Linked DNA regions of Homo sapiens. The main gene of each other region encodes a partner of the protein of the gene in region 2 in a complex. Each region holds a gene or a part of one and is shown on either strand. Other genes may lie near its edges. The genes, in order: STK3 and RASSF5. A codon is read from its position in the direction of its gene.

The links.
Region 1: the proteins of RASSF5 (region 2) and STK3 are in contact, whole or in part, in a crystal structure (PDB 4LGD), measured with the Homo sapiens proteins. Residues at the interface, in NP_872604.1 of Homo sapiens: Trp369 (codon at 1,742), Asp370 (codon at 1,739), Ala371 (codon at 1,736), Phe372 (codon at 1,733), Ile374 (codon at 1,727), Leu377 (codon at 1,718), Gln378 (codon at 1,715), Phe380 (codon at 1,709), Leu381 (codon at 1,706), Leu384 (codon at 1,697), Glu385 (codon at 1,694), Glu387 (codon at 1,688), Glu388 (codon at 1,685), Lys391 (codon at 1,676), Ile392 (codon at 1,673), Val395 (codon at 1,664), Gln396 (codon at 1,661), Lys398 (codon at 1,655), Tyr399 (codon at 1,652), Phe402 (codon at 1,643), Arg403 (codon at 1,640), Lys405 (codon at 1,634), Leu406 (codon at 1,631), Ala409 (codon at 1,622), Leu410 (codon at 1,619), Ser413 (codon at 1,610); in NP_006272.2 of Homo sapiens: Phe437, Phe439, Leu440, Leu445, Leu448, Gln449, Arg451, Leu452, Leu455, Asp456, Met458, Met459, Glu462, Ile463, Leu466, Arg467, Tyr470, Lys473, Arg474, Pro476, Ile477, Leu478, Ala480, Met481, Lys484, Gln488.

The regions. Positions count from the first base shown.
Region 1 is NC_000008.11:98,702,643-98,711,191, reverse strand, and holds part of STK3 (serine/threonine-protein kinase 3), read left to right. Parts: intron 1-3,880; coding exon 3,881-4,045; intron 4,046-4,557; coding exon 4,558-4,725; intron 4,726-8,549. UniProt on the Homo sapiens protein: Stress-activated, pro-apoptotic kinase which, following caspase-cleavage, enters the nucleus and induces chromatin condensation followed by internucleosomal DNA fragmentation.
Region 2 is NC_000001.11:206,580,019-206,588,567, reverse strand, and holds part of RASSF5 (ras association domain-containing protein 5), read right to left. Parts: exon of another isoform or gene 7,468-8,549; coding exon of another isoform or gene 7,406-7,467; intron 5,300-7,405; coding exon 5,189-5,299; intron 4,182-5,188; coding exon 3,884-4,181; intron 3,389-3,883; coding exon 3,273-3,388; intron 1,743-3,272; coding exon 1,590-1,742; 3' UTR 1-1,589. UniProt on the Homo sapiens protein: Potential tumor suppressor. Seems to be involved in lymphocyte adhesion by linking RAP1A activation upon T-cell receptor or chemokine stimulation to integrin activation.

The DNA.
Region 1 (8,549 bases), on a different chromosome or scaffold from region 2:
TGTTTTTTCTGCATCTTTGTGGTTTTATCTACCTTTGGTCTTTGATGATGGTGATGTACAGATGGGGTTTTGGTGTGGATGTCCTTTCTGTTTGTTAGTTTTCCTTCTGTCAGGACCCTCAGCTGCAGGTCTGTTGGAGTTTGCTGGAGGTCCACTCCAGACTCTGTTTGCCTGGGTATGAGCAATGGAGGCTGCAGAACAGTGGATATTGGTGAACAGCAAATGTTGCTGCCTGATCGTTCCTCTGGAAGTTTTGTCTCAGAGGAGTACCGGGCTGTGTGAGGTGTCAGTCTGCCCCTACTTGGGGCTGCCTCCCAGTTAGGCTACTTGGGGGTCAGTGACCCACTTGAGGAGGCAGTCTGTCTGTTCTCAGATCTCCAGCTGTGTGCTGGGAGAACCACTACTCTCTTCAAAGATGTCAGACAGGGACATTTAAGTCTGCAGACGTTTCTGCTGCCTTGTTTGGCTATGCCCTGCCCCCAGAGGTGGAGTCTACAGAGGTAGGCCAGCCTCCTTGAGCTGTGGTGGGCTGCACCCAGTTTGAGCTTCCTGGCTGCTTTGTTTACCTACTCAAGCCTGGGCAATGGCAGGCGCCCCTCCCCCAGCCTCGCTGCCGCATTGCAGTTTGATCTCACACTGTTGTGCTAGCAGTGAGCGAGGCTCCATGGGTGTAGGACCCTCCAAGCCAGGCGCGGGATATAATCTCCTGGTGTGCCGTTTGCTAAGACCATTGGAAAAGCACAGTATTAGGGTGGGAGTGACCTGATTTTCCAGGTGCCATCTGTCACCCCTTTCTTTGACTAGGAAAGGGAATTCCCTGACCCCTTGCACTTCCCAGGTGAGGTGATGCCCCGCCCTGCTTCAGCTCATGCTCAGTGCACTGTACCCACTGTCTTGCACCCACTTTCCGATACTCCCCAGTGAGATGAATCTGGTACCTCAGTTGGAAATGCAGAAATCATGTGTCTTCTGCAATGCTCACGCTGGGAGCTTTAGACTGGAGCTGTTCCTATTCAGCCGTCTTGTCTCCATCCCTATTTATTAGTTCTAATAGGTTTTTTTTGTGGAATCTTTAGAATTTTCTACATATATGATCATATCATCTGTGAACAGAGATAATTTTACTTCTTTTTTTCCAGTTTGGATGCCTTTATTTGTTTTTCTTCCCTAATTGCTCTGTCTAGAACCTCCAGTACTATATGTAACAGAAGTATTAGGCTGGTGCAAAAGTAATTTCGGTTTTTGCCATTACTTTAAAAAAAAAATGGCAAAAACTGCGATTACTTTTGCACCAACCTAATAGCATCCTTTCATTGTTCCTGATCTTTGTGGAAAAGCTTTCAGTCTTACTGCTTTGAGTATGACATTTACTTTGGGTTTTTTGTATATGGCTTTTACTATGGTGAGATAGTTTCCTTCTATTCATATTAGTTGTGTGTTTTATGAAAAGAAGTTAAATTTAATCAAATGCTTTTTCTGTTTTCATTTGAAATGATCATGTGGTTTCTTCTCCATTCTGTTAAGGTGGTGTATTGCATTGTTCGATTTTGTATGTTGAATCAACCTTGCATTCCAGGAATACATTCCAGTTGGTCATAGTGTATAACCTGTTACAATCCTGTTGAAGTGAGTGTGCTATATTTTGTTGAGGATTTTTGTATCAATGTTCATAAGGGATATTGGTCTTAGTTGTTTTGTGGTAACTTTGTCTGGCTTTGATATCAGAATAATGCCTCTTAAAATGAGTGTGGAAGTGTTCTCTTTTCTTCAGTGTTTTAGAAAATTTGAGAAGTTGAATCAAGATATTTTAATCTTTTTTTTTCCTTTTTGTGGAGTGTATGTTCCCAGATAGCCATTCACATGGTTGGCCCCATTATATCATTTAGACTTCAGTAAAATGTCTTTTGGGCCTTCTTGAATGTCAATCTAAAGTAGCTTCTCAGTCGTTCTCTATCAGTAGCTCTCTATTGTTGTCCTCATAGCAATTTTCACAGACATTTTCCTGTGTTATCCTATTTTCTATCAAATTATCCCGTTGCTTATAGATAGAATATAAGCTTGAGAGCAGTCCCTAATCATTTAGAATTTTTATGGTTGATTCTGTTACATAGGCATGATTGATTAAGTCTTTGGACATTTGTGCTTAACTAAATCTCTACCCCCTCTCTCCTTGCAGCCCTCCCGTAAGTCAGGGGTCAGGCAGAAATTTCCAAACATCTAATCACTTGGTTGGTTTTTTCGGCAACCAGCTCCCATCCTGAAGCTATCTAGGCTCCCACCAAGAGTCACCTGATCAGTATAAATTCTGGTATGGTTGAAAGGAGCTTATTATGAATGACAAAAGACAGCCCCTCTCACTCTTGTGAGAGGGTGAGAAAACAAAGATAAAATATCTTGATTCAACTTCTCACTCACTCAGTCAATTCACAGGGTCTTAGGAGATTTTGTGCCAAGAACCTACAAAGACCAAATATTTCCTGTGATTTCATAATATCACACTACCTTACAAGGTTGTTTTAAGAATAAATGAGAGAATGCATGCATAACTCTTAGCACATTGCCTGGTACAGATAGCAGTGGCTCTACTGCTACAACTGTTAAGAAGATTTTCTTTCTTTCCCATCCGTCTCTTCCTCGGCCTTCTCTACTCTCCCCTTTTTCCCTCCTCTGATAGTCTTTGCTTGTGTTTCCATTTTCCTAATCTTTCTCTGACGTTTTTTCTTCTGAGTTCTCAATATTAGGTCAGAAGTCCAGAACTTGGAAGGGTTAGGAGTGGCATTGGTGTAGGAGCTTCTCGCAGAAGATTCATTGCAAGCCTCCCTCCCTCATTTACTTTCCTTTATGTAAAGCTGTTGGTTTCATTTTCATCAAGAATCTGAAATATCTCAGGGGAAGTATCTGAATTTACTTTTTCAGAACAGATATTAGCTGTGATAGTGCCCTCCCAGTATTAGAAGATGTGGGAAATCACTATTATGATTCCTTATATCAGGCTGATTCTTGAGATATGTTGTTTGCTTTAGGAATGATACTGATAATTTTTTTTTTTTTTTGAGATGGAGTCTCGCTGTGTCGCCCAGGCTGGCATGCAGTGATGTGATCTCAGCTCACTGCAACCTCTGCCTCCCAGGTTCAAGTGACTCTCCTGCCTCAGCCTCCTGAGTAGCTGGGATTACAAGTGCACGCCATCACGCCTGGCTAATTTTTGTATTTTTAGTAGAGACGAGGTTTCACCATGTGGGCCAGGCTGGTTTTGAACTCCTGACCTCAAGTGATCTGCTCGCCTCAGCCTCCCAAAGTGCTGGGATTACAGGTGTGAGCCACCACGCCCTGCTGATACTGATAATCTTAAAGAGAGAAATTTGATCATCCTTTCATTAGTAAAATGTGTAATAAGAAAGCTTATTGTGGGAAGAAGAGGTTCTCGATTATTTACCCCTTTAGCATTTTCCTGGAGGTTTAGCGGTCATTAGAAAGAAGTACTTGTGGCTAGGCATGGTGGCTCACACCTATAATCCCAACACTTTGGGAAGCTGAGGAAGGAGAATTGTTTGAAGCAAAGAGTTCAAGACCAGCCCGGGCAACATAGCGAGATCCCCATCTCTACAAAAATAAAAATAAGTTAGCCTATTGGGTTGGCATGTGCCTGTAGTTCTAGCTACTCGGGAAGCTGAGGTGGGAGCATGCCTTGAGCCCAGGAATTTTAGGCTGCAGTGAGCTATCATCACACCACTGCACTGTAGCCTGGGCAACAGAGTGGGGTCTCTTAAAAAAAAACACACACACACACACGGAAAGACATACTTGTTACTAGTGCTCTTTCGTAAGATTTTATCTAACGTGGCATTTTAATTATGGTTTTAAAAATATTTCTTTCCAGTTAATAGAAGATGAAATTGCAACCATTCTTAAATCTACATTGAAAGGACTAGAATATTTGCACTTTATGAGAAAAATACACAGAGATATAAAAGCTGGAAATATTCTCCTCAATACAGAAGGACATGCAAAATTGGCAGATTTTGGAGTGGCTGGTCAGTTAACAGTAAGTTAACTTTAATGGTTTTCTAAACACTTGGCTAATTTGTTCAGATTTGATTATAACTAAACTTCAATTACTTTTTGAGGGGGAATGGAAAGAAATGTGTAGTTTTTTAATTTTTGTGGAGAAGGAACCATAATTGAGCCAAATTTGAGTATTATTTAATTTATAATTTAGGGTGATTGAATGTGAAAATATATCTTATAATCAAAATGCTTAAATGTTCTAAAAGGGAAGCTACGTAGCTCATTTCTGTAGCTTTTATCATTGTAGCACTATCTTTAATGACTGTGTTTAATGATGGTAGTGTGGATAAGTTACCTGTGGACTCTTGGTTATTTTCAGAATTCGGAATTCCTAAGTATGTCATAACTAGTTGAAATTTTAGCAAAATAGTCAATTTCTGATATAATCTGTGGCATTGGAGGTTTTAACATTTTTTAAAAGTATGTTTGGCATACAGATTTCCTTTGTGCTTTTGTAGTAGCATTTATGGCTATGTAACATTATTGCAGGATACAATGGCAAAACGCAATACTGTAATAGGAACTCCATTTTGGATGGCTCCTGAGGTGATTCAAGAAATAGGCTATAACTGTGTGGCCGACATCTGGTCCCTTGGCATTACTTCTATAGAAATGGCTGAAGGAAAACCTCCTTATGCTGATATACATCCAATGAGGGTAAGAAAATTATGGTTTGCTGAAAATGTTAGCCTTATATAAGTGTTGCCGTTTTGTAATGTCAATGTAAGTAAATATAAACTAAATAAGTTCATTTAAATGTATTCTTTTTAAAAATGGTAAAATTACCTCTTAAAGATTAGTAACTGTTAACTTCTCTTCCTTCTGCATTCTTAATTGTGAGAAAAGAACTGAAGGCTTTGTATATCTCTACCATCACTGTTCTCCTCCCCCAAAAATATACTTGTAAAATTTTTGCTTGCTTTTCAATAGAAGAAAGGGTTGGTAAATCCTCTTTGCTCTTCAGTTTATTGTTTTCTTGATTGTGGTAGTGAAAGAGTTGGAAGTAATCATTTCTCACTTTTTTACCCACTCTGTGATTTATACCTTACTGTGTGTTTTTTTTTTTCTGCCTTTTCTCTTCTTTGGTCTGAGGATGGTATTAAGCAATCCTAATTTCTAATATTACTATGCACATATAAAGGAATTCGGCTAATTTTTTTTAATGAATGCATGCTGAGAAAATGGAATTCCTTTTTTGAACATCATTATATGCTTCTGTGAACTCTGCAGGATAATTTTTGAGTTTGAAATATATATTTTGCATATTCAAGTCTAATTGCCTGTGTTTCAGGGTTTGTGATGATATACTTTTTAGGTTTATTACTATGTGAATCATATAGATAAGTTCATCATCATAAATAGGTACACTGATCTTTGTATACTTATTGCCCTCTAGTGGCTGTAGTTATCTCAATAAGGATGTAGGAATGAGGGGAGGAGTGTATGTATGTGTGTATTTGTAGAAAAGAGAAGATAATATCATGGTGGCTGGAGGAATGTGAAGTAAATAGATAGAAAGAGGAAGAATGCATAAAAATTCAGATATTTTAGAATATCTGAAGAAGAATAAATTGGAATTACATCTGATATTATAATGCCATTGTGGGTTAAATTTCGATAATATAGGTAACAGTGTATTATACAGAAAATATTTAAAAATCTGTCTGCTGTATTGAAACATTTTAAAGAGAGTTTTTTTTTTTTTTCTTTTGAGATAAGGTCTCACTCTGTCACCCAGCCTGGATTGTAGTAGTGCGATCATGGCTCACTCGAGCCTCGACCTCCTGGGCTCAGGTGATCCTCCCACCTCAGCCTGCAGAGTAGCTGGGACTATAGGTATGCACCACCATGCCCAACTAATTTTTTGTAGAGACAAGGTGTCGCCATGTTGCCCAGGCTGGTCTCCAACTTCTGGGCTCAAGCGATCCGCCCACCTCAGCTTCCCAAAGTGCTGGGATTACAGCAGTGTGCCCAGCCTAGAGTTCTTTGAGTAATGTAATTGTATACAATATGTATCATCTTCCTGGTGTATATAAATTCCTTTTGGTAAATGAAAGATAAAAATGCATCAATTGTTTGAAAATAACTTGAAAAACAACAAGGTCAGCATAAAAACAGGAACACAAAGTCTTATTTCATCTCTGATCATTAGTTATCTGTGGTTCTTTTAGTTAGGATGTTTGTAGGGTGATCCTCAAAGTAGGTGTATTTGAGTTTGAATCAGTGAGGTTTACTAAATTACCCAAGGCAACCTAGGTAAGTACAAGAGCTGGGATTTAACTTAGGACTTCCATTATTACTATTCTGCTTCTTCCCTGTGTAAATCTTATTTTTCCAACCAAATAGTTCAACATGTTAAATTTGATCCTGTGCTCAGATAGCAGAGAATTGTAATATGTGGCCTCTTCCTTTAAGGATCTTCTAATATTACCTGAGAGTTTGAATGAATACATTATACATTATTAAAAATATACCTGAAAATAATATTTCTTTTAGAAAAAAATATACCTGTATTGCAAACTTCCTAGGATGCCTTGCTCACTGTTTTTTTTTTTTTAAATCTAAATCCTACCAGTTTTTCAAGTCCCAACTTGGATTTTATGCCTGTGTAGAGCCATTCTTGACAGCTATCGCCCAAGTAAATTTCTCTTTTTCCTCATATTTTGTATATAGGCAATTTCTTCACAGTCCAGTTCTTTGGACAGTTAATCAAGTGTTGCCTCGTGCATTTCCAAACATAATATAGTTTATTTCCTATTTAAATAATATCATTATTTAACTTTTCTTGTGTTTGTGAGCTGTCTTACAAAGTAGAGTATTGAACTGCAAGTATTGGAAGCTGTTGAGATCATGTAACAGATAGTTTTATCACTGGTAACAAGTACTGCCTTTTGTTTTCCTTGAAATGACAGGTTCACTTGGTTCCTTTTTGAGAAAATGTCTGTCAAATACCCAAGTCTGTGTAACCTTAGTTTTCTGTTAGTTATTCTTCAAGTAAAAATGATGTTCTTTGAAAAGAGCCTTGTAGTTTATTTAGCTTGCAGCTCAGTCACACAACTGCTTTTTTTCAGATTATTGTTGTTCTTTGATATGTGGGGAAGTGCTTTATGCATATTTTCCATTTTGTCAATGTAGAATATTAAAAATACATATTCAAGTGTAGAAATTTAATAGAATTAATAAACTTTACTGTTTCATCAAGGTTTACAGTAGTTTTGTGGGGGGTATAGTGAGGGCAATGAAAGAAAGAGCTGTCCAAGAGAGAAAAATTGTTGAGGGCCCAGCTAAAATTGGTAATTGGGAAAGTATAGTGTAATTAATCCTGGTTTGTGGGCCTTCCTATGGTAGTGTGCTCTGCTGTGCAGTAGAATGCATTATGGCCTTGATATGGAGGGTTTGGGTTTTAATGAATGAGTGTCTTAGAAGGATGGGGCTATAGGGAATTTAAGGATGCTGCTGAGAGACAGTTCAAGGGGTTACTAACAGGGCACAGTCTGGAAAGAAAAGAGAGAGTGTAAGGAAATGGGGTGATCAAAGAATAGGTAGTGTTCTCCATGCTTGCTGCATAGCCGTCATGTGGGGAGCCCTACCCTAAACAGATTAAATCAGAATCTCAGGAGGTTAGAGAGGAGATAAAGTGGTAGTTAAGATATGAGAAAGCTGGTAGGATATGACACTATGGTAAGTGAGTGAAATATTGAAGTTTTTTACCAACATTTTTTTTTGTACTGTAGTAATTTTGTGAAATAAATATTTTATCCTCCATTGGGTGGATTGGATGAAATGGATAAGATTATGTTATTTAAGATGACATAACTTGTCAGTGGCAGAACTGAGATATGAACTCAGTTTGTTCTGTGTTTTTGCCTAGACACCAAAGAAATATCCTCTGTGTTAATATCCCAACTCAGTGCAAGTGGAGGAGCGGCTAACAAAAATAAGACATTTTAAAACCATGTAATCACAATATTATAATTACTGATTTAAAATCTGAACCCTCTAAGTTTTCCAGAGTAGCAGGAAATATGGTAACCTAGGTAAGATTTCAATTTTTAAAGTTTTGTTTTCCAGCCATGTTTTGGTAGACATATAGGCTAATGAGGTAATCAATAATCTACAAAGTTGCCACAATGAGACAAAGATGTGATTGACATGAAGACCCCACAGCTGATAACAGGCAAAAAACCTGATAGTTATTTTAATATAAGTAAATGATACAATTTACTACATATACATGGCTATCTAGAACAAAGTTAGAGACAAAGTTAGGATGTGGTGGGTGAGTTTCCCCAGCCTCCATCTATAGTGGGGTGCCCAGCCACTGGTGGTATTGCCTAATTGGAGTGAGGATTCTAGCCAGTCTTTCTGAAATGCCTTGCATTCATCCTCACAGAGTTCTAGCCCTTTCCACTATGCCTGCCCACTAGCTGTATATAATTAGGAACACTCCAGAACAGTGGTGCTGCCTTGTAGACTGAGTG
Region 2 (8,549 bases):
TTGAACCGACCCAAGAGGGACTTGGGAAGGCAGAGGATAGCAAAGAAATGGTTTCTCAGAGGCTGGGTTGGAAAACCAGCCCTGCTTTGAAAATTACAAGTCCTTCTCCCTCTGCACTGGAGTGTCTCTGCAGTCCTGGCTACTTGTTGGAATTTTTTGACTAATTTATTTTAGGATTCAGCCTAAACAAGAAGCCAGTGCAAATGTAAGTCAGGAATTTGATCCTCCCTGTCAATGTGGTCTGGTATCACTGATTGGAGTCAAAACTCAGGCACCCAGATGGGAGGGAGGTCTGTGACCCTCAACCCATACTGAACGCGGGCTCTCCTGGCCTTGTCTCCCACACCGCCGCCATTGTTCACTTCCTGGCAGGAGAAGCCAGCAGCAGAGCTTCAGGCAAACTCGCCCTACTCCTATTTCTCTCTGAAAACAAAAAGGCACTGAGGTCGACGGGGAGGCCAGGCCCACCGGCTCTCCGAGCGCAGTGCCGGGTCTGGCCCATGCTTCAAAACAGAAAGGACTCCAAGTTGGCCGAATTGGAGGCTCCCCTCTCTGTAATCAAGGCAACTCCTTGGGCAGCACCTGGAGATCCCAGAGTCGCAGTGGGAGGAGGGAGGCAGTGCTGGAGGCCGATGGGGAACCCAAGTAGCCCAGGCCCTCCTCTGCTCTTTAGCTGGGGAAGGCTGAAGACAGCTTGGACACCTTTCTCTGCATTGCTTTTTGGCTTTCTCTTACTGTCTGATTTCCATACTTAGCAGGAGACTTTTTAAATGGTCAATGACTGGCTTCCCTTTGGGGAAACACATGACGATGATGACAACATTAAATTCAAATTTGTAACTTAAAAACGAACAGTTTGTTGACAAAGATGTGACTAAGTACCACACATACGCAGATATATGCCTTTGGGTTTCCATGTGCAATGTGGGCCAGGGCCAGAGCCAGGGCCAGGGCAGGCTGCAGCTTCTCTGGAGATCTCTGAGCCAGCCTCAGCTTTGGTGCTCCTTACCCTGAGCATCTGGGGCCAGTAGCTTTATAAACTTCCCTTAAGTGTGAACAACAGGCACCTTGGGGCCGCGGGAACAGTCCTTTTATGAGCATTACCCTGCTTTCAGGGGCTTAGCTCAGACCTGCAAAAGGAATGTGCTACAACTTTTCACTCATAAATAATGGTCCTGTACGTGGCAAGTAAGAGAACTCAAAGAGGAATCAATGCCAGAGAAAGAACACACAGCTCTAAAACCTTTCTTCCTTCCTTTGCCGGCTGGTGTGAGGTTCCAGTTTGGTGACGAGAGAGGCAACTATTTGGTTGGTGAAAGGCTTGCAGATCGAGAGAGGACGTCAGCTGTTTGTTTCACATGAGTTCTGATCCTTGGCAGAATCTGTGGTGGGGCACAGCCTGGGGGCGGGCACAGCTGAACCCTCGTGCAAACACTTGTCCATGGAAGAGACTTTTGCCACAGCTGGAACTGCTGGGCAGGCACAAATGCACCTGCCAGAGATGTCCTGAGAAAAAGTGTCTGTTGCAAAATAATAATTAATAATACAAATAAATCTGAATGCACCAGGAGGAGAGGAAGCAGGACCGGTTACCCAGGTTTGCCCTGGGATTCTCTTAAGGCCTCCTCCAGTTTCTGCCTAAACTTGTCATACTTCTTTTGCACTTGTTGGATTTTGTCCTGCTCCTCTTTTTCCAGGATTGTTAGGAAGTTCTGAAGTTCAGGGATGGAGAAGGCATCCCACTGTGAGGCGAGAGGGAGATTTGTGGGAAGAAACAGAATAGGAGACAGGTTAGAAGTTGACACGACCTGAGAGACCCTGCTGCCTTCCCCTTCCCAGTTCACATCCGTGATTCACACACAGTTTGCTACTGAACAGACTGAATCAGCGAAGCCTGGGCTTTGCATGCCTGTCATAGCAGCAACAAAATTCCAAATGCTGGCATCTCATGACCAAGAGTTGCCAGTCTATGAACCATGTTTTTATTTTGAAACTCAATAATCTTAAGTTTCTGTGTAGCAGCCGAGATCTTGACAGTGATGCTGGAACCACCCAGCCTCCCAACATGCAGACCCTCAGAAAGCAGGTGGAGGAGTGGAACGTGGACTCAGGAGACCGGGGTTGGGCCTGACTCCACCTCTCCCAGCAGTGTGACCTCGAGCACAGCTTTCCACCCTTCTCAGCCTGTTATCTGCTGGGAAATTGGGGTATCTACCTCCCATGACTGGCAGAGCAGATAATGAGAGCCTGACTGGCCCAGGCCTACCCCTAAAGGACTTGGCCTCTGATGGCAGAAGGCAATTTGGACTTCCATCAGGCTGACCCAAGAGCACAAGCCCTGTGCGGCCAACAATTGAGACTCCTAAGCTCTTTGAGCACAATAGAGTACTAAGGTTTATCTGGTTTGGTCCTCGCTATGGATAAGTGAGAAACCTCAAGTCCACACAGGGAAGGTGGCGTAATCACAATCACAGAGCTCATTGCAGCAGAACTGGAACTAGAGCCCAGGTCTCCACACTTCAAAGTGCCTGAGCTTTCCACAGGGCCAGCAGCATTCAGCTACTGTCCATGGAGTACTTTTTCCAAACATATTCTGCACAGATGCCAATAAAGAAAGCAGATGGGAGCAGAGCGGCCCTTGCTGAAATGGGGAGAAGGGACAGAGTCCCAGCTGCCTTGATCCCTAAATCTCCGCAGTGACTCCCAAAACTCCTTAAAACTCTAGGCCTCCACTGAACACAGTGTGACAAACACTGAGACCTTCCCCTGTTGGTCATTCTCAGGCCATGGGTGGCACCGGCCTGGTTTTACTCCAGTTTATGCCACAAGACTACACACTGGTTAGCTCCCCTTGGGGGATGGAGGTCAAGAAAAGGGAGGACAAATGGCTCAAAAACGTCTATACCCAGTGGAGCCCAGAGATGGAGCTTGGTAGCCCTCGGGCCATTTTGAAGCAAAAACAGCCTGTGCCTGAGCACAGGGAGTTTCTTGGTCCCCCTCCTCCCTGAGTTTTCAGAAATAAAGCACATGAAATCCTTTCTTTCCACAGGCCTTGCCACACACAGGCCCTAATGTGCTACCCCAGGGTGTTCAGAGTCCTGGCTGAAACACTGACCCCCAGGCCCATCACCCACCCCTGCTCACTCTCTCAACAGTCACCTTCCTGCCCGTGCTGCGTGGCTCCCACCTATGTGAGGTAGTTAGGACAACACCCACCTGCACCCACCCAGGGTGCCCTAAGGCCTGGGTTTGCACAATGGGTCCAGACCTACCTCTACCTCTCCAGTTTCATTCTCCTTTAGCACAAAGCTGAGGACCTCCGTGTCAGGCCCAGCAAGCAGGCGCAGGTAGAGGGGGCGGTCAGCAATGGAGAGTTTCTGGAAGAGCACTGCAAACCAAGAGAGGGTGCTGGGAGCTCTTCCCAGAAAAGAAGGGCGGGGCCCAGGCTTGCGGGAAAGGATTGGAAATGCAGAGGTGGGGTACGTACAACTGGAAGTAGACACGGGCCTTTTAATGAAATGAACATGACAGTAATGAACAGGGCAATAACCTTTTATCTTGGGTGTCTGCTCAGAGTTTAAAGCATGATTCCATTCACATCATCTCCTGAAAGATTAGGAATGGTGGGGCAGATTCCTCCCATTGCACAGATCAGGAAATGGGAGCCTAGGGTGTGGTTTTCCTGAAGTCACATGCAGAGTCAGGGACTCTGCTCTTGCCTCCCTGCCCGGATTCCACAGATCTGAACACCACATGGGCAGCTGGACCCCTGGTGCTCAGGAGAAGCCCACAGCTCCCACCCAAGGCCGGCAGGAGTTTTAGTGGGTGGGCTTGGACACAGGTAGGAAGGGAACGGTCTGGTTGGGTTCACTCTTTCTCCTACCTTGTCCGTCCTTGTGTATCCGCTTAAAAAGTGCAAACTTCTGGGGATTGTCCACAACCATGAACTTCTTGAGCAGCCCCTGGATGACCTCACTGACGGTGGTGGTGCTGCTGATGTGCAGCTGCTTGATGGCATCTAGGGGCAGGTAGAAGGATGTCCGCTTGTCCGTGGTAGCCGCCAGGTTCACCTCCTTGATGGCATCATAGATGGACTGGGGCCGGATCCCAGCAGGCACCGTCACAGGCCGCCGGAGTTTCAGATGCACTTTGATGAAACCCGTGTAGGTGCCGTCTTCACTCTGCCAGCGGGGGCATGTCACAGGGGGTCAGGGCCGTCCGCCTTGCATGATCATATCTGCCACTCGGGGCCATTGCCCCAGCAGCACCCACCTGTCTCCTTGAGTTCTTTCCTGCCTCTGCTGACGTGGGAGAGCTGGAGGAAGGAGCAGAGATCCCTTTCCCCATAGTGGGCTGGGAGAAGACCCTCAGGATCCAGCTACCAAAGAGGACCTGTGGGGCTGCAGTGGATTTCCCTCCCAGGAGGCTCAGGCCAGCTCCCTAAACCTCCTGTAACCAGTTGCCTTTGGTGAGTGCCCATTGTAAGAGGCAGGGTGTGGGGTAGCCACTCTAGTTTGTACCTCTGAACCAGGCAGGAAGCAGGAAGGCTCTATAATGAGGGCCTTGGAGAACCAGCCCACTAGATTTCCTCCTGTATCTCTTTACTAAGAAACAGCCTTTAAGACTTAAACCTAGGTGCATTTGTGACTGGATTTTCTGGTGCTCCATCTGGCTGAACCCCAAAGAGCCAGCTGATGCCAGCCACCAGCAGGGGGCAGTGTTTTTCTACCTTCTCCCCTCCCTATTGAAGACAGCCTTTCCCAACTGGGTGCTAAGTTGGGTGCCCTCCCCTCTCTGAGAGAGTATGTCCCTCTCTCACAATCGAAGGGGTAGGAAGGGGAGCAACTAAGTCCCATTGTCCTGGCTCCCTGGAGGCCAAGCAATACTGGGCCCTTGGTCATTACGTACCGTTTAATCACTTAGTTTACACTGAAGCTCAGAGGAGGAGTTAAAAGAGCTTCCCAAAATCACAAGCAAAAAATGAGAGTCAGATCTATTTCCCTAAAGCACATGGAGGCCACTGAGGGCTCTGGCTATCAGCCTTCCAGACCCCGGAGGCCTCTGGAGGCCGGAGGAAAGGGAGGGGACCTGCCAGGGAGTAGCCACAGAATTCAGAGTGAGGGCAGAGGCGCCAAACCCGAAGCGGGTGGTGGAGCAGGGGCCAGGTTGAGGGTGGACGGGCGCTTACCAGTTTCATGCCCAGGCAGTTCTTCTCTCGCGTGTTGTAGCTGTCGATCTTCTGCTTGATCTCCTGCAGTGTGGGCGGGCGCTGTGTCTCCTCCACAGGTTTACAGACATTCTGGAAGAGACACAGAAGTGGAGGTGGATGTGTAGTAGTTCTCAGGGTGAGAAAGGGAACAACCACGCCCTCCCCAAAGCCTCTCTAACCAAGAAGTGAGCATCCAGCCCTGCAGAGTGGAACTAACTGCACGGACTCGGAGTGAGACAATGAGAGGTCAAATTGCAGCTGTGCCAGTGTCTAGCCAGCCCTCCTGGAGAAGTAACTCAGATTTCTCTAAGCCTCAGTCTCCTCATCTGTGAAATGGGAACAATACCTACTGCACAGGCTTGTCTTGAGATTAGTGTGAAAGCGTCTGGCACTCAGGCACTGACTATGAATCTGGTGAATGAGCAGAGCCGCATTTGCTTATGGAAAGCTGCTATGGAAAAGATGCTTCTTTGATGCTATGGGAGATGCAAAGAAATACAAGCCATGGTCTGTCTCCTCAAGGAAGTAACAACACAGCTGGAGGGACAGGCGTCTACCCATGGTGCCAGTATATACTACTGATCGGGAAGACAAGAATTCTCTTAGATCCCAAGGACCAAGGACACATAGAGACCAGTCCAGGCCCCACATCACTTGCCACAGTGCTTTTCACATAGCAAGAAGTAAATATCTATTTGTCAAATGAACGAGTGAACTGGCAGGGATGAAGGGCTGTAGCCCCCTCTACCATAAAAGAGGAGATAAACCGCTACTGGGCACAGGGACACCTAGAATTTACTTAGCACTTCTTCTGTGCCAAGTACTTGGCATACATTATCTCATATGATTCTCACAAACCAGAAGTCTGTAAGATAGTTTATTACCCCATCTTACAGGTGAGACTATTGAGACTAAGAGAAGTTTAGCAACCTGCCTCACACCCTACAGTCAGTATGTACAGAATGAAACAGAAATTCCAGGTCTGTCCCATTGTGTTCCTCCTGTGAGACCATGTGTTCATTCTTCTCATATGTTCCCAGATGCCCTCCTCCTCCCACCCCCTGGGAAGGATAAGTGAACAATGAAATTGAGGAGATTGAGGTCAATGGCCCTCACCTTGTAGAGACAATACAGGGGTGAATTCTGGGGTCGAAGCCACTGTCCCTCAGTCAGTTCTCTGGCTCTCTCTCAAGTTCACTGTTACCCACCTCCCGGTTTTATCTTCACACTGTCCCTGAGTGGCTGGGAGTGTGGGAACTGGTTGGTCAGAACCCACCCAGAATTTGCCTGACGTTCAAGTGTAGCAGACTTGGGGTGGATCAGGATTCTCCTTTGGTAAATGAGGAAACTGAGGCCCAGTGAGGGATGACTCTGACACCATCTGACACTGTCCTGTGGGTGTCTGGGTTTGGCTGGGGAATTTCACAGCTGCCGCGACGTCACATCACCACCCCGCGGAACACAACAGGGCCCCCCCTCCGTGACAGAGCTTTGCCCTACCTTCCTCCCTTCAGCAAGCCATGTGGGAGACACGCCACCCTGAACAACCTGCCATCACTTCCTTCCACTTTCCAATCCCACAGAACCGATGCAATGTCAGGCTCTGGCTGCCAAGAGGAGCTGGCGTGGCTCCAGCCTCCCACCTCCAACCCCTCAGCACAGCTGACATCCTCCTTTCTTTCTTTCCTTCCTTCCTTCCTTTTCTTTCTCTCTCTCTCTCTCCCCCCTCTCTCTCTGTCTCTCTCTCTTTCTTTCTTTCTTTTCTTTCGTCTCCCTCTGTCACCCAGGCTGGAATGCAGTGGCACGATCTTGGCTGACTGCAATCTCTGCCTCCCAGGTTCAAGCAATTCTCCTGCCTCAGCCTCCCAAGTAGCTGGGATTACAGGTGCGCACCACCACACCCAGCTAATTTTTGTATTTTTTAGTAGAGACGGGATTTCACCATATTGGCCAGGCTGATGTCGAACTCCTGACCTCAAATGATCCATCCGCCTTGGCCTCCCAAAGTGCTGGCATTACAGGTGTGAGCCACCGCACCCAGCTTCTGACATCCTCTTTCCATCATGGCATCGTTCCCTGGCCTGTCTGCTCCCGCTGTACTCTCCCCAAGGGGTCCTGACCTATTAATAACAGCCTGTGCTGGGTACTTTCACATACCTTCTCTTACATACTATGTATGTCATTCTTATTTCACAGATAACAAAACTGAGGCTGAGTTTAAGAAACATGCCTGTGGTCCCCTGCTAGTAAGAAGCTAAGTAGGAACTGGAATCAAATCCATCTAAGGCCCATGCTCTTCTCAATTCACCATGTAGCCACCATGGGACGGCATCTTTTGCTGAAGGGGCCGGCCTGCCACACCCATAATGATCACTGAAACTCTGTGCTGCGGGGCTGGGATGAGCAGCTGTTAAACCAAAGCCTGTAAGTTACCTGATCTGTGAAATGTTCATCTAAGATGAGTCTAAGCAGCGGGTCAGGCCCCAGAGGCACCATGTCACCTGTGAAGGTGGGAAGGAAGGACTTCTAACTCAAGTGAGATGCAGCCACCAGGATGCAGGGCCCAGCCTTCTCCTGTGTGCCTTCCCAGGTCTCTGGAACTGAACCTTGATTCTGTTGCAGACCACCCAAGGGCAAGCAGCTCTGGCCATCTCCCACTTGCCGGAGGTGAGTAGCAAGTAGTGTGAGCCTCACAGACTCTCTTCATTCACTGTCAGTCCATTAACCCGGGGACTCTCACAGTGAAGCCTCTCATTTTCCTCATCCCTTCCCTTGGGTAGCTCCCAGAGCTCCCCATCCTCAGTCCTTGCCAGCTGAGCACATGTCTATGGGACCAGATGTGCCTGACCCTGGCCCTACCCCTATACCTTCCCGCTGGGAGCTTCTAATTAGAAAGACCCCGTTGTCTGGTTACTATTATACACTCACTCTGTCTCTGACGCATGTAGGCTATTGCTCCTCAGGAGGTAATAGCTTTCTCATACTTGTCTATAAAAAATAAGTAATGGAAAGAAAATTCTAGAAGCTTCGGAAAGATCTCCTCTCATAGTTTCCAATCAAGCTAGAGCCATTTCCCCGTAAGAAAAGGCAGCTGTGCTGTGGCTTTCAAAGGCTTGATTTTGAATACAGTGAGAAGCAAAGCTGCCTTAGCCTAGGGTTTCTTCTTCCTGTTCCCCTTTCTTCAGCAGATAGACCCATCTATCTCTCCCCTTCCCACCACAAACGCGGGGAAGTGACGCAAGTGGCCACAGGCACCTCTGCCTTCCAGGGCTGACTCAAAAGACAGCAGCCCTGACCTCACCATTCTGAGGCCTGGCCCTCTGGCTGGTGATGGGAAGCC